Regions from separate parts of the Homo sapiens genome. Here region 2 is linked to region 1. The links come from fine-mapping of genetic effects on gene expression. A gene starts in region 1. The other region holds a variant in brackets. All regions are shown on one strand. Distances are from middle to middle.

Region 1 (5,379 bases):
AAGTCTCAATCTCACCCCTTTACAGATCAGGAAACTGAGGCAGATAATTTATTTGCCTATGGTCACAGGACTAGTGAGTGACAGAGCAGGTGGTTTGGTCTTACAGTCTATGTGTTTAACCACTACACCAAACCACCTCCCTAAGATGCTAGAGGGGGTTTGTGCCAATGCCTGGATTCTAAGAGATTAGATTCTCTTTAGGATCTCTGACCTGTTTCCTCAGCATTCAGAGATAAGGCCAGAAACAATGCCATTTGTGCACGAACTGACAACTGACGGTCCTCCTACCTCCTATTTCTATTTAAAAGGCACTGTAACTTCTTTCCACAGGCAGATCCCTACCTCTCCTCCCTTAGGGGAGGACGAAGGTGTCCCAGCCAAGGAAGATCCTGGTCTCCAAGGGCTGTACCCTACTGATCCGGAGGCAAAGCAGTGAGGGCCCACCCCAATTCCTCACCTCCCATTCTACTCTTCGGCAGAAGCATCTCAGTGTTGGAAAGATAAGGATTTCTTCCTAAAAAGGAAGGATTACACTATATCAGAGTCTGAAGATACAGTTTTCATTTGCAACGCAAGGGAATTCCTTTGAATCTCTACCTTATGATTTCCCTGCAAACCCACTCCGATGGGGCTGGAGAGTGCTCTCTCACTCAGATGAATCTCTCAGGGGTTGTCCAGCAGGTGTTTGCCAACTTGAAGAGCTACCTACTATCACAGACCTATAAAAGTACGCCTGTGGACAGACTGAAAACAAACAAACAAAACACACACACAAACACACAAAACAACCGCACACTGGGAGAAGTTCTAGGCAATTTCCTTGCAAATAACTGCTTTGAAAATTACTGTTTTAAATTGGCAGAACACTAAGGACTTTGAACAGATCATCCCTTTTACTCAATGTTTTCATAACCTTGAAGTGAAGGTGGAGGGAGCAGTACGTTTTAAGGTGCCAGGATTACACTACGGGGTCAGTGCTCCCGGATATGAACTTTCTTTTTCAGACCGACCTTGGGACCTACAGCTTTGTAAGTTACTCATACAACTCCATCAAATGTTACAGGTAGGTCAGAGGACATTCAGGTTGTTTAAGCCTCTATAAATGACTCAGGCAGCAACAATTTACAACGTCTTTGTTTCTGCTATGCAGTGCCCTCCTGCTAGAGATGGCAAAAATGTGGGGAGGGCTTCAGAGCATTCTAAGCCTGGTATTTCTGGCTGGAATTTTTAAATCTCACTACAATCCTGACAAGAGACCACGACCTTAATCTCCCACGGCATGACTGGTTAGTCTTGATCGTAAGCCATATAATCAACACCCAAATGTGCATAACACATCTAAATAATGTCAAAACTACACTATATACCACGCAGGGGACCAGAAATCAATCTTTACCTCAAAAGGATAAGCTTCCAGGATGCAATAACATCCCCTTCCACCCTTTTCTACACCCTAAAACAGTAATATTCACGGTAACAGCAAAGCGGAAATCAGCTTTTCCTGAACATGTACTGAATTCTAGTCACATTCACACACGTTAATTCATTTAATTCCAGCCACAAGGTAGGCAGCCTCTGTTAACATTTTACAATTGTGAGAACGCAGAGATCTGGGACTGGCTCAAGGTGACACACTGCAGCAAGGAGTCAGAATTTGAATCCGAAGCAGTGTCCTTCCCCCTCGCAACAGCTGCGGCGTTACAAACACAGGTCAGCCACGGAGAAATTAATGACCCACAGCCATCCTTGCAGCTCTGCGCCATAACTGGGGAGACAAGCTGGTTCCCGTGACTCTTCAGTCTGTTTTCACCCAAGTGCATGACTGCGGGAGCAAAGCGACCACGTGAGCATCCCCCCCCCACCCCCCCGCTTCCCCCAGGCGAGGGACAGTGCCAGGCCAAGGACAAGTCACAGGTGCAACAACGTGCCAGAACTGGATCCGGAGCCCCAGGGCGCAAGATCTCCCGCAGCGTCACCCGGCAGAGGGACGGGTGTGGCCACCGGGCGCGGCAGGTCCTGCGTGCGCTGAAAGTGCGGCTGGAGGCGCGGACGGCTTTCCGGAGCCCCGAGAGAGGAGCTAGGAATGACTTTGGTCGCAGCCTCTGTAACCCCGCATGACGGCCTCTAGGGGGACAGCGAGGTCCCCCTCGATCTCTGGCTGTAATCAGCCGGCGGGGCCAGACGGTGCCGAGACTCCAGGGCGAGGCCGCAGGGAGGGGGCTGTCCCGCCCCACGTGGACCGGCTCCCCGCTGGGGGCGTGGCCGCCGAAGCGGGCCGGGCCAATGAGCGCCACCGTCGGGCTCACCCGGCTGGGCACGCCGGGCCGAGGAGGGCTGCGTCATGCCGGGGGCGGGGCTTCGGGGCCGGCGCGAGGCGCGGCGGGGTCACGCGGGTCGCTGCGCGGGCTATAAGTAGGGGCCGGCGGGGTGCTCCGCTGGAGTGATGGCTGCCGGCGCTCTCTGCGTGGTTCTTCTTCTCGGCCGCTGAAACCCCCGCGGCTGCTTCCTGGGAAGGTCGTGAGTCCCGCTGAGCTGTCCCCGGTGCCGCCGACCCGGGCCGTGTGCCCGTGGCTCCAGCCGCTGTCGCCTCGATCTCCTCGTCTCCCGCTCCGCCCTCCCTTTTCCCTGGTGAGTAGTGGCGCCGCCTCGTAAAGGCTCTTTCTTCTCCCCGGGGCCGGGCGCGGACGCCGTGGCGCTGGAGGCGGACGCCGTGGGCGGCGCGGCTGGCTTCTCTCTTCGCCGCTGGCCGCCTCCACTCCGCCCGTCTGCCCGCCCGCGGGCCTTTTTGGCGGTCCCCGGGCGGCGCGCGCGGGAACGGCCCTTTTCCGATTTTCGCGCGGAGGGCGCGCGCGGGCTGGCAGCGCAGGGGCTGGGCTGGGCGCGCGCGGGCCGCGGAGGACCCGGAGCCACGTGCCTCTCCTTCTCGCGCGTCCTACTGGGGATGGGGGTCTGGAGTAGCCGGCAGAGGCTATTGCGGGACCCCGGGCGCGTGGGTAGAGCGGGGTGCCCCACTGGCCCCCCAGGGGCACGCAGCTATTGTTATTTCCCCCCTCCCCCGCAGGATGAACTTGCGTCCTTTCTCTTCTCCGCCATGGAATTCTGCTCCGTGCTTTTAGCCCTCCTGAGCCAAAGAAACCCCAGACAACAGATGCCCATACGCAGCGTATAGCAGTAACTCCCCAGCTCGGTTTCTGTGCCGTAGTTTACAGTATTTAATTTTATATAATATATATTATTTATTATAGCATTTTTGATACCTCATATTCTGTTTACACATCTTGAAAGGCGCTCAGTAGTTCTCTTACTAAACAACCACTACTCCAGAGAATGGCAACGCTGATTACCAGTACTACAGCTGCTACCGCCGCTTCTGGTCCTTTGGTGGACTACCTATGGATGCTCATCCTGGGCTTCATTATTGCATTTGTCTTGGCATTCTCCGTGGGAGCCAATGATGTAGCAAATTCTTTTGGTACAGCTGTGGGCTCAGGTGTAGTGACCCTGAAGCAAGCCTGCATCCTAGCTAGCATCTTTGAAACAGTGGGCTCTGTCTTACTGGGGGCCAAAGTGAGCGAAACCATCCGGAAGGGCTTGATTGACGTGGAGATGTACAACTCGACTCAAGGGCTGCTGATGGCCGGCTCAGTCAGTGCTATGTTTGGTAAGTTCTTTTTATGTTTTGTCCTCTTCGTGGTGGGTGAGCAAATTTGTATCATGGGTGGTTCCATTTTTGTGCATAACCTTTCCGATTAACCTTTCTGAATGTGCCACTTACATAATGGAATTTTGATATTTACTTAATAAAACTTTACTATGTTTCAGGTTCTGCTGTGTGGCAACTCGTGGCTTCGTTTTTGAAGCTCCCTATTTCTGGAACCCATTGTATTGTTGGTGCAACTATTGGTTTCTCCCTCGTGGCAAAGGGGCAGGAGGGTGTCAAGTGGTCTGAACTGATAAAAATTGGTATGTTTAATTCCAAACGGCTTCTTAATTTTCGTTTTCGTCATATGTTACCATGGCATTAGGTATGGGAGGATGTGTTCTAACGTCGAGGGACAGACCCAAGAATTTTGAACTCTTAAACATTTAAAGTGGTTTTTGGTTTCTGATTTTCATTATTTGATATTTTTTCTTAATGTGTTCTATTCCAGTGATGTCTTGGTTCGTGTCCCCACTGCTTTCTGGAATTATGTCTGGAATTTTATTCTTCCTGGTTCGTGCATTCATCCTCCATAAGGTAACCTTTCTCCCCCGTATGAAGACCTTTCATGGAGCACACCCAATCGATTTCAAACCCAGTGGTACTTTTGCAGATGTGATTGGTGTATAGGTATGCGGCCTTGGAAAATTTTAAAAAGCTCTTTGTTCTGTGCATTTCTTGTATGTTGTGGAGTTCTCTGAAAGCGAGTTTTTAATACTCAAGAGGGCAGTCAGGAAGGAAAAATTGAATACTATGATGTGCCAAGAAGTAGGAGAAACTGGGAGCAAAAAAATAAGGAAATTTATTTTGCGTGGTTTTGTGTAGCTGTATACACATTATTTGTTTAAACCACTGTTATATTCAGGCTAATATAATACGTAAACTTGGAGTTCAAGACAGTGTCCCCTGTGGCTTTTTTAACTAAGCTGCCAGTTAAATGGGTCTCTGCCGTGCTGATTATCATAACCAGTTTATAAGCTTCTAGATGAGGACTCTGCCTCCCATAGTGACTTGACTCCAATTTCTCAGAATAGTTGAAAAGAACCAGTTAAAGGTAGTTTTTGGCCCGCCCCCCAAAAAAACTTCAGGCAGCCATTTAATTTCCTGTCCATTTGAAAATCCCTTTTAAGTGACCCAGTTTGCATTTCTTTTATCAAGAAGTCTTGCTGGCTGCAAAATAAATGTTGACAAGGGATTATGTTGGCATAGGACTGAGTTACAGTGAGGATAAATGCATTTTTCTCAGGAAACAAAGTTGTCCTTTTTCTAAGGTGAATGGCTCTTAACAATCCATTGTAAGTTCTTAAAAGTGTTCCTAAACTGTAGAAATCTGAGGGAGATAGCATAAATCCCAGCAGGTAAGAATGTATTCAGACCCACTTGTCTGGTCTAGTTGTAAGCTTCTCTAGGGAAAGATTTGTCTCTTCTCTGTAGAAATTCTATGACTAGTAAAGTGATTCACTAATCACTGTTTTCCATAGCCAGAATCTGGCAGAATATAGCAGTTTAACACTTTGAAAACTTGAAATATCTTTAGCCTGGTATAATATGAGAGTAAACAGTTCATTGATATTTATGGACTCCTAAGTTTGGTACTGTTTTATTCAGCAGACAGGTACGATAAGCATCTACCTTCCCACTCCCTACAACTGTAGTGTATGATACTGGGATGCTTAAAT
Region 2 (5,379 bases), 38 kb before region 1:
ACCTCTGCCTCCTGGGTTCAAGCGATTCTCCTGCCTCAGCCTCCTGAGTAGTAGGGATTATAGGCACCCACCACCACGCCTGGCTAATTTTTTGTATTTTTAGTGGAGACTGGGGTGTTTCACCATGTTGGCCAGGCTGGTCTTGAACTCCTGACCTCAGGTGATCCACCCACCTAGGCCTCCCAAAGTGCTGGGATTACAGGCGTAAGCCACAGCGCCTGGCCCATCTCTATAATTCTCTATGGGAACAGACTCCCCTGCCTGTCATACATTACATCTGTTCTTGCCATGTATTACAGCAATCTCACCCAGCATTCTTCTGGCAGTGAAGTGTTGTCACCTGGCCTCTATTATTTCAGGACTCATCCTCATTAGTATTGGGAACATAGCTCTGTAACATCATCTCCCACGATCAGCCCACAGTCACCACCAAGCTTCTTGCTGATGCTGGTGGCCCCATTGAACAGCACATTCCTCCTCGTTTGGATAAACAGAAGGTGCCCACGGCTCCCCTGTGGACTGCGGTGACCTGGTGGGTTTTCTTTCCTCAGTAGCATATCCACTCCAGCATGCCTGCTTCTCTGAGCCACCTCATTCCTGTATCCACTATTGCACGGCATTTCTGGCAGTTCTGCTTTCCTGGGGGATATTGCTTTTTCCAGGCTTCCATGAGACCATTGAGTGGAGTGTTAGTACTATCTTCACCTCCTTGCTGGGGTGTGAATCCCATACCCCACAGCAGCACTCTCGCATCAATAAACTTCCCTTTATCCAACTTTGTCCCACTTGATGCAGCATGAGGAGAGCCAGCCCCGTGTGTCTCCCCAGCACCTACTGGACATTTGGCCACGTCCTGTGGTTCCTTCATGTATCATTCTTTCCTCCCTTAGTAGACCGAGTATCTTCCTGTCAGATGGCCAAGCAGCAGCCCCTAAGCAGCAGCCCCTAAGCAGCAGCCTGGGGGAGCCACAGCTGCTATGTATCAAGCACAAGGCAAGGCCTGGCTGACATGCATGGTCAGGAAAGCAACAAGGAGCCATTTTTTAGATCAGGCAGTTTATATTACTCATACAGATGGTGAAAGCGCAAGTAGACAGAGGTGCCAGGTCCCTGTGACCCTTGCACAGGGCGGCACCAAAACAACAGGGGCCAAATGGCAGCAACATGAGTGCCAGGTGAAGCCCATACCACACTGCAGCCAAGCAGCTTTATAGCTGGTAGCTATGCACATGCTCTCAGGGATGGGAAGGCATAATTCTAGGTGGTCCCCAAATTCCCACTCCCTCATATACATGCCTTGTATCATCGCCTCCCGTCGAGTGTGGGTGCTAATTCTAAGCTACAGACAAGCATTTTCCCCTTCCTTCCTAAGCTACAGCCAAGCCTGCCTGCCTGCCTTCCTTCCTTCCTAAGCTACAGTCAAGCCTGCCTTCCTTCCTCCCCTCCCTCCCTCCTTTCTTTCCCTCCCCTCGCCTCCCCTCCCCTTCTCTCCCCTCCCCTCCCTTCCCTTCCCTTCCTTTCCCTTCCCTTCCCTTCCCTTTCCTCCTTCTCCCTCCCCTCCCCTCCCCTTGCCTCCCCTTCCCTGGCCTCCCCTTCCCTTCTTCTCCCTCCCCTCCCCTCGCCTCGCCTCCCCTCACCTAACCTCTCCTCCCCTTGCCTCCCCTCCCCTCCCTTTGCCTTCTCTTGCCTTCCCTTCCCTTCCTCTTTCTTTTGACAGAGTCTTGCTCTGTTGCCCAGGCTGGAGTGCGGTGGTGTGATCTCATCTCACTGCCTCGGCCTCCTGAGTAGCTGTGATTACAGGCATGCGCCACCATGCCCAGCTTCTTTTTTTTTTTTTTTTTTTTTTTTTGTATTTTTAGTAAAGACGGAGTTTTCCCCATGTTGGCCAGGCTAGTCTCAAACTCCTGACCCCTAGTGATCTGCCTACCTTAGCCTCCCAAAGTGCTGGGATTACAGGCATGAGCCACCGTGCCTGGCCCAGCCAAGTGTTTTCTAGTCTGCAGCTATACTCAGAGGAGGGCAAGGCATGGAGTCTCATGCTTACCAGAACCAGGGAAGCAGGTGATAAACTGGCTCGGGAGAGTTCTGAAGAAGACTGCCCATCTTGAAACCGCCTTTGCCAAAATTATGGGGAATTATGACAGTGAAATAGATCAGACCTAACTGACTCCATCTTGCTTCTAACCTCTAAACTGTCCTTATCCATTCCTGGGCATAGGCCGAACTAGCCTTGGGAAGGAATTTAGTTTATAGTTTAAATAACAGCCCTTCCCAAAAGCAAATCTGTTCTTGTAAAACGAATGAAAGGCCACCAGCCACCAAGTTAGGATGAGAGGGGCTGGAACTCTAAATATTACCAGCTGTTACGTGGAAGGTCATGAGATTTGCAACTTCCCTGATTACTCTTGAAGATAACATCACCATTGTGAACCTGAGATTGGCCTTTTGAGATGTCTTTTCAGGTTTTTCCATTTCTGACAAGTGGTTGGCCTCACCTGGACCTGCCAACCAGTTCTGTGGCACTCACCCAGGAACTGACTCAGCATAAGAGGATAGCTTCGACTGCCTATGAGTTCATCCTCAAGCCAACCAATCGGTGCTCCTGGCTCACTGGACCCCTACCCACCAAATTATTCTTAAAAACCCTGATCCCTGAGTTTTCTTTTCTTTTCTTTTTT[T/C]TTTTTTTAATTATACTTTAAGTTCTGGCAAACATGTGTACATCGTGCAGTTTTGTTACATAGGTATACACGTGCCCTGGTGGTTTGCTGCACCCATCAACCCGTCACCTACATTAGGTATTTCTCCTAATGTTATCCCTCCTCTAGCCCCCGACCCCCTGACAGGCCCCGGTGTGTGATGTTCCCCTCCCTGTGTCCATATATTCTCATTGTTCAACTTCCACTTATGAGTGAGAACATGTGGTGTTTGGTTTTCTGACCTTGTGATAGTTTGCTGAGAATGATGGTTTCCAGCTTGATCCATGTCCCTGCAAAGGACATGAACTCATCCTTTTTTATGGCTGCATAGTATTCCATGGTGTATATGTGCCACATTTTCTTAATCCAGTCTATCATTGATGGACATTTGGGTTGGTTCCAAGTCTTTGCTATTGTGAATAGTGCCACAATAAACATACGTGTGCATGTGTCTTTATCATAGAATGATTTATAATCCTTTGGGTATAAGCCCAGTAATGGGATTGCTGGGTCAAATGATATTTCCAGTTCTAGATCTTTGAGGAATCGCCACACTGTCTTCCACAATGGTTGAACTAATTTACACTCCCACCAACAGTGTAAAAGCATTATTTTTCCACAACCTCTCCAGCATCTGTTGTTTCCTGACTTTTTATTTATTTATTTATTTTTTTATTGAGACAGAGTCTCGCCATCTTTCCCAGGCTGGAGTGCAGTGGCACGATCTCAACTCTTTGCAAGCTCTGCCTCCTGGGTTCACGCCATTCTCCTGCCTCAGCCTCCCGAGTAGCTGGGACTACAGGCACCTGCCACCACGCCTGGCTAATTTTTTTGTATTTTTAGTAGAGACAGGGTTTCACTGTGTTAGCCAGGATGGTCTGGATCTCCTGACCTCGTGATCCACCCACCTCGGCCTCCCAAAGTGCTGGGATTACAGGCTTGAGCCACCGTGCCCGGCCTGTTTCCTGACTTTTTAATGATCGCCATTCTAACTGGCATGAGATGGTATCTCATTGTGGTTTTGATTTGCATTTCTCTAATGACCAGTGACGATGAGCATTTTTTCATGTCTGTTGGCTGCATAAATGTCTTCTTTTTAGAAGTGTCTGTTCATACCCTTTGCCCATTTTTTGATGGGGTTGTTTGCTTTTTTCTTGTAAATTTGTTTAAGTTTTTTGTAGATTCTGGATATTAGCCCTTTGTCAGATAGATAGATTGCAAAATTTTTCTCCCATTCTGTAGGTTGCCTGTTCACTCTGATGGTAGTTTCTTTTGCTGTGCAGAAGCTCTTTGGTTTAATTAGATCACATTTGTCAATTTTGCCTTTTGTTGCCATTGCTTTTGGTGTTTTAGGCATGAAGTCTTTGCCCATGCCTATGTCCTGAATGGTATTGCTCAGGTTTTCTTCTAGGATTTTTATGGTCCTAGGTCTTACATTTAAGTCTTTGATCCATCTTGAATTGATTTTTGTAAAAGGTGTAAGGAAGAGGTCCAGTTTCAGTTTTCTGCATATGGCTAGCCAGTTCTCCCAACACCATTTATTAAATAGGGAATCTTTTTCCTATTGCTTGTGTGTGTCAGGTTTGTCAAAGATCAGATGGTTGTAGCTGTGTGGTGTTATTTCTGAGGCCTCTGTTCTGTTCCATTGGTCTATATCTCTGTTTTGGTACCAGTACCATGCTGTTTTGGTTACTGTAGCCTTGTAGTATAGTTTGAAGTCAGGTAGCATGATGCTTCCAGTTTTGTTCTTCTTGCCCAGGATTGTCTTGGCTATGCAGGCTCTTTTTTGGTTCTATATGAAGTTTAAAGTAGTTTTTTCCAATTCTGTGAAGAAAGTCTGTGGTAGCTTGATGGGGATAGCATTGAATCTATAAATTACTTTGGGAAGTATGGCCATTTTCACGATATTGATTCTTCCCATCCATGAGCATGGAATGTTTTCCCATTTGTTTTTGTCCTCTCTTATTTCCTTGAGCAGTGGTTTGTAGTTCTCCTTGAGGAGGTCCTTCACATCCCTTGTAGGTTGGATTCCTAGGTATTTTATTCTCTTAGTAGCAATTGTGAATGGGAGTTCACTCATTATTTGGCTTTCTGTTTGTCTGTTATTGGTTTATAGGAATGCTTGTGATTTTTGCACATTGATTTTGTATCCTGAGACTTTGCTGAAGTTGCTTATCAGCTTAAGGAGGTTTTGGGCTGAGACAATGGGGTTTTCTAAATTTACAATCATGTCATCTGCAAAGAGAGACAATTTGACTTCCTCTCTTCTTATTTGAATACCATTTATTGCTTTCTCTTGCCTGATTGCCCTGGCCAGAACTTCCAATATTATGTTGAATAGGAGTGGTGAGAGATGGCATCCTTGTCTTGTGCCGGTTTTCAAAGGAATGCTTTCAGTTTTTGCCCATTCAGTATGATATTTGCTGTGGGCTTGTTATAAATAGCTCTTATTATTTTGAGATATGTTCCACCGATACCTAGTTTATTAGAGTTTTTAGCATGAAGGGGTGTTGAATTTTATCAAAGGCCTTTTCTGCATCTATTGAGATAATCATGTGTCTTTTGTCTTTGGTTCTGTTTATATGATGGATTACGTTTATTGATTTGCGTATGTTGAACCAGGGTTGCATCCCAGGGATGAAGCCAACTTGATCATGGTGGATAAGCTTTTAGATGTGCTGCT

Direction of the effects. Alleles are on the strand shown, and positions count from the first base shown. SD is a standard deviation of normalised expression in the study named.
With allele C in place of T in region 2, the expression in naive CD4 T cells of the gene that starts at base 2,438 in region 1 is lower (large effect, 0.93 SD a copy in Schmiedel 2018).

Evidence for each region. PIP is the estimated chance that this variant, and not a neighbour inherited with it, causes the effect.
Region 2: its variant is the best candidate, but not a certain one, in a credible set for the expression of SLC20A1 in naive CD4 T cells (Schmiedel 2018, PIP 0.81).

What each region holds. Positions count from the first base shown.
Region 1 is chr2:112,643,502-112,648,880 of GRCh38, forward strand. It overlaps SLC20A1 (solute carrier family 20 member 1), which reads left to right and starts at 2,438. Exons shown (of 11, transcript NM_005415.5): 1 at 2,438-2,628; 2 at 3,062-3,661; 3 at 3,823-3,963; 4 at 4,152-4,237. The coding sequence starts at 3,328. SLC20A1-DT (SLC20A1 divergent transcript) reads right to left here and starts at 679. Exons shown (of 5, transcript NR_033871.1): 1 at 598-679; 2 at 458-514. RefSeq lists silencers at 2,100-2,929, 3,391-3,685.
Region 2 is chr2:112,605,712-112,611,090 of GRCh38, forward strand. The region is part of intron 1 of LOC124907869 (a long non-coding RNA gene); the gene reads left to right. Among named protein-coding and RNA genes, the nearest start is that of CHCHD5, 24 kb to the left of the region's middle. The variant T/C (reference allele first, on the strand shown) is at 2,679.